Linked DNA regions of Homo sapiens: region 1 is linked to region 2. The links come from fine-mapping of genetic effects on plasma protein levels. A gene starts in region 2. The other region holds a variant in brackets. All regions are shown on one strand. Distances are from middle to middle.

What was found. PIP is the posterior inclusion probability: the model's chance that the variant is causal. The UK Biobank Pharma Proteomics Project read protein levels with antibody pairs (Olink). The fine-mapping took linkage between variants from a reference panel, not from the people measured, so its PIPs are less certain.
Region 1: its variant is fine-mapped to the plasma level of the NECTIN4 protein (UK Biobank, PIP above 0.99).

What each region holds. Positions count from the first base shown.
Region 1 is chr1:161,073,106-161,075,605 of GRCh38, reverse strand. It overlaps NECTIN4 (nectin cell adhesion molecule 4), which reads left to right. Exons shown (of 9, transcript NM_030916.3): 5 at 847-995; 6 at 1,233-1,389; 7 at 1,811-1,886; 8 at 2,307-2,381. Among named protein-coding and RNA genes, the nearest start is that of ARHGAP30, 4.5 kb to the right of the region's middle. RefSeq lists an enhancer at 177-853. The variant G/A (reference allele first, on the strand shown) is at 1,217.
Region 2 is chr1:161,088,371-161,091,285 of GRCh38, reverse strand. NECTIN4 (nectin cell adhesion molecule 4) reads left to right here and starts at 1,728. Exons shown (of 9, transcript NM_030916.3): 1 at 1,728-2,068. The coding sequence starts at 1,990. It overlaps NECTIN4-AS1 (NECTIN4 antisense RNA 1), which reads right to left. Exons shown (of 4, transcript NR_183641.1): 4 at 554-2,915.

The DNA.
Region 1 (2,500 bases), 15 kb after region 2:
AGAGATGGGCTTTCACCATGTTGACCACGCTGGTCTCGAACTGCTGACCTCGGGTGATCCGCCAGCCTCGGCCTCCCAAAGTGCTGGAATTATAGGCGTGAGCCACCATGCCCGGCCTTGTCTAACTTTTAAATTGTGAAATATAACACAATATTTCGATATTAATATTTTATATATTTATGTGAGTGCATAAAATGGACAAGACAGCTGTGTCTTTTTCTAATTGTTGTTAAGCCAACACTCCTATAACCACCACAATATTGCTAGCACCTCAAAAACACCCACTACCTCCAGTTCCCTCAAGGCATCCTTGGCCTTTTTCCAAGATCTGAAATATCTAGAGAGTCAGGGAGAGGTTGGGTACACATGTGTGTGAGCACATCATGGGCATGTTCTCACATGTGAGCATATGAGCGATGCATGTGGCCTTGTGCCTGGGGCTATGTTTGTGTATCCTGCCATGCAACATCACGGGTGTTGGAGCAGGCAGTCACATTTTCCAATTACCTCTACACCCAGCTAGGAGTGGAGTGTCCTGTTGTGTGGACTTTATAACATGTGTACCTGGTACCCAGTGTTGGATGACGTGATGCCTGTGGAAGCATGTGGGATGGCACACGTGTGGATCTTCCCCGGGTGTGTGTGGGGGGTGCCCAGGTCAGGCTGGGCAGCAGGGAGAAAGGACCTCTGCCTAGACCTGCCTGGTGGAGGGAGGGGCACCGTGGGAACAGCCTGCGGCTCTGGGTGACGTCATGGGGGTGGAGGGTGGAGAGCTGTCTGGACACGTTGGGTGGTGGTGGCTTCAGCCCTTCCCGGCTGGCACCCTTCAGCTTCCCTGTCTTCCAGGCTGGATGGGCCTCTGCCCAGTGGGGTACGAGTGGATGGGGACACTTTGGGCTTTCCCCCACTGACCACTGAGCACAGCGGCATCTACGTCTGCCATGTCAGCAATGAGTTCTCCTCAAGGGATTCTCAGGTCACTGTGGATGTTCTTGGTAAGCACTGGAGCAGAAGTCCTTGGTAAGGACCTGGGCCAAGGGCTTGGTGGGGGCAGCAGGAAGCAAGACAGAGACAGTGAATTGGGAAAGTGTTTATTCAGAGGGGGCTGGGCTGTGTGTCTTGCAGAGAATCAAACTGAGGTGTGGTTTTAGATGTTTTGCGGGGGAGCTGTGAGGTCTGGGGTGGGTTGTGGCTGCAGGCTTCCACCTCAGACAGT[G/A]GCCTGTCTCCAGCAGACCCCCAGGAAGACTCTGGGAAGCAGGTGGACCTAGTGTCAGCCTCGGTGGTGGTGGTGGGTGTGATCGCCGCACTCTTGTTCTGCCTTCTGGTGGTGGTGGTGGTGCTCATGTCCCGATACCATCGGCGCAAGGCCCAGCAGATGACCCAGAAATAGTGAGTACTGGGCACTCCTGGGTGGGTAGAACTAAGCTGAGAACAAAGAAGAGGATAGCAGGAGGTGGGCCAGGACCGAGGAGACTGGGTAGGCTGAAAACTGAGGAGTTTCAGACTAGAGGTGGGCAGGGTGTTTCTAGGGCTGAGGAGGAGCTAAGGGTCTGGAGCACAGATGGAGCACTCAATCCTTCCACCTTAGTGAGGCTCAGATCCATGTGCCTGGATGTTGCCAAGTATGCACACGCACACAGCACACACATGCTCTTCAGCCTCACTGCCACCTGCAGCCACACACTCACACTTGCAGGGCCAGCACGGCACCCACACCCTCCGGGCCTGTCTCACTAGGCTCAGCCAGGATAGGCTCACCTTGGGAGGCTGCCACTACCCTCAGCTCCTGACAAGGGTGTGTCTTTCCCAGTGAGGAGGAGCTGACCCTGACCAGGGAGAACTCCATCCGGAGGCTGCATTCCCATCACACGGACCCCAGGAGCCAGGTGTGTGCCAAGGTTGGGTGTATGCATGCAGGGGTGTGGTCGCATTGGGGTCTGCTTGTGCCTGGGCCCCTCTGCAGACCAGGAGCACAGCTCTCTGCTGGGTCAGCCACTGACTCACAGCTGGGGTTGGCCGGGGTAGAGTTGAGAGGGTGTAGCTGCTTTGGGTCTGCTAGGGCTGCTCCAGAAGGCCCCCTTCAGCATTGGCCTAGGGCCTTTTCTGGGAAGCCACCATCAGTTCTGCTTCCAGGGTGGGTTTGTGGTCGCAGTGGGGAAATGAGGATGTTTGTTTCCAGGAGAGAATGGACCTGTTGGGTTGGGGGACAGGCAAGTAGGGAGGAGGCTGGTGGAGGACAAGAGGGGAAGAGGCTGAGGGGAGGAGGCTGAGCCCTGTTCTAACTGCCCCGTGTCTGGGCCCTGCAGCCGGAGGAGAGTGTAGGGCTGAGAGCCGAGGGCCACCCTGATAGTCTCAAGGACAACAGTAGCTGCTCTGTGATGGTGAGGCCCCCGGCCCCACCGGTGTCCCCACCACTCTCCTCGGGCCCCTGTCCTGGTCCCAGATATGGTGCGTCAGCAGCCCCCTTACCAGTCCCTCTTTCCTTAGCCCTGGCTCATGC
Region 2 (2,915 bases):
AGGAGTAAAGTCCAGGTCACAACCCTAGTTCAGGATAGTAACTCACAGCCAGTCGGGATCTCTGCTTTACTGATCCGACTTCACCATCCTTTTCATCCGGACAACTCATTTATTCAGAAATTCATGGCTTCACCAAAATGTAGTCAGTTCCCATGAAATGCTGTGGCCTGTCCTAGCATGGAAGACTGAGACAAGATTATAAAACAAGCCCAACTTTCAAGGAGTTCACAGGCTACAACTCTTGTCCTGTCCCGCAATTTAATACATTTACTGAATTCCTGGCACACAGCAGGCCTCAATCGATGTTTTTTTGACTTGAAGCTTACAATTTAGTTAAGGAGATAAGATGTGCACAAATTATGAGCACATAAGCTATAATAAAAGGACTAGCAAAGGCTGAGGAAGAATAGAAGAAAGATTAATTTGGGGTGGGAGGAGCAGAGAAGGCTTCACGAAGATGTGGCATTTGAGGTCAGCTTTGAAAGATGAATAAGAGTTTGACAGGTAGAGTTGGTGGGGATGGTGGTGGTAGAAAATCTACACAGAACAACTCTTCCTTATGGCTTCTTTATTCCTCCTTTCTGCCTTCTCCAGATGGAAGGGTCCTATGGCAAAACTTTAACCTATATTTTTTTCTTCTCCCACGTCTATCTCTGTATTTACCTGGTTTTTGTATTAGCCCTAGACTGCAAGTGATGTTGTCCCTCCCGTTCACTAAATTTTCAGTGGGCTCAGAATATGCCCTCTTCCTCTGGCTATCCCAGGGAGGCCAGGAAGGTTTTGTGTAATTTGGCGGTCACTTTTTATGCATTCAGAATGGAAACACATGGTCTGACAAGGATGTACTTATAGGAATACAGGGCTAGAGTACTTGAAATTAAGATTCTCCTTGCAAAGTCCAGACATGTGGTCTTGTCCAATGACCTTGGAGTAAACTGGGTAAAATGGCCATGGAGAGGGTAGAGAGGAACCTCTCTCCATTCAAGTTGTGCTGCTGCGCTTTTGGGACTCCTGGCCAGGTAACAAGGTGTTGAAGCTGAGAGAGGGCCCTGATAGGGAAACCAGGAACCCCTACGGCTAATTCCTTGGCCACTTCCTTGGCCTCTTATATATGGAGGTGGAGTTAGAGGAGTTACGTAAGTTCTTTCTCAGGGGTCTTTGAACTACTTCCCTACTTCAGGGATAGAGGTGTCTGAGCAAACCATGAGACTAAGTTGTGTGTCCTCTGGCAAGTCCCTCCCCTTCTCTGGGCCTTGGTTTTCTCTTCTGAAGAATGAAGTATACAGCGCAGCACTGACAGACTCCTTCCTCCTCAGTTCTGGCCTTCTCCGATTCTGTGGCTCCAAAGCTGAGACCCTCCAGGAGATCCGGGAACTTGTCAAGGCCCCCAGGAGGTACCAAGGCTAGCTGGGGTGTGGGACGCTTGGGTTCCTTTCTACCCACAAGGGCCTTGCCCCTTTCATCCTGGCCTGGCCTGGTGCCCTGGGCCTCCCTTAGTCCCCACCCTTGCCTCTCCCTTCATAGCCCCTTCCACATACTCGCAGGTAAAGCCTGGAGCTGAGGATGGGACCCCACCGCCCCCACCCAGGTCCTTCCCTCCTTCCCTCCCTCCCTGGCGCCTATTAGCTAGCCCAGGCCATGGGGGCGGTGGCTGCTGAGTCTCCGTGCCAGGCCCAGCCCCCAGAGACGCACCTGTTCTGACCTGCTGAGCAGGTTCCCAGGTTTCTGCCGTCGTTGTTGGCCACAGCGTGGGAAGCAGCTCTGGGGGAGCTCGGAGCTCCCGATCACGGCTTCTTGGGGGTAGCTACGGCTGGGTGTGTAGAACGGGGCCGGGGCTGGGGCTGGGTCCCCTAGTGGAGACCCAAGTGCGAGAGGCAAGAACTCTGCAGCTTCCTGCCTTCTGGGTCAGTTCCTTATTCAAGTCTGCAGCCGGCTCCCAGGGAGATCTCGGTGGAACTTCAGAAACGCTGGGCAGTCTGCCTTTCAACCATGCCCCTGTCCCTGGGAGCCGAGATGTGGGGGCCTGAGGCCTGGCTGCTGCTGCTGCTACTGCTGGCATCATTTACAGGTAGGACTTGCCTGAACCATCAGGACACTTGCTTCTGAGCCCAACCTGGCACTGACACACATGCACAAACACATAGACACACACGCACGCACACACATATCCTCCTTTCTTTGACTCTGAACTGAGGATCCAGTCTCTCCTGCCCCCAGCTTCCAGCAGTGCCCCCAGAAAAGCCAGTATAGCCCTCCCCCTTCTTGTTTCCTCCCAGCCCCCAGGCCAGGTCACTATGTCTGGGATCCCTGACACCTCTGCCAAAGCCTTGCCTAGGCCTGAGCTGTCTTGGGGAATAGACGTGGTGACCCAGTGTAGATGGGCAGGCAGGTGGGACTTGTGAGGATCCTGTTCACCCCAGGGTTTCCTAGAGGTGCCTTGGCCTACCCCCTGGGCTCTGGAACGGCTGCCTGGAACTGGGGCTGACTCAGAGCTCAGCTGGTTTCTGCAGTCATCAGGGTGCAGGAAGCCTGATGCCCAGAGAGTGGATGGGGGATTTCTATTTCCTTCTTTTCTCTCCATGATGTTCTAGAGCACCAGGACTGGGGCACCTGTTGGGGACTATAGGAGAGCTGAGAATGCCCGTCACTCTGACCCCTTCCTTTCCCTGGGCACAATATTAGGTGCCAGGGTGGTAATAAGGGGGTTTAGATGGATGGGGGTCTAAGGAAGGGAACCTTCTAGATAGGGTGTGGTCCCCATTTGTTCATCTCCTGTTCCCCCATTTTCTTAACTAGATGCCTTGTATTACTTCTCACCTCCTGTCTGTCTAATGCATATAGAGCAAATATGAATTATAGGAATGTATAATCTTCAGAGTAGAGGAGAGTGTGTGTGCGTGTGTGTGCACAGTGAG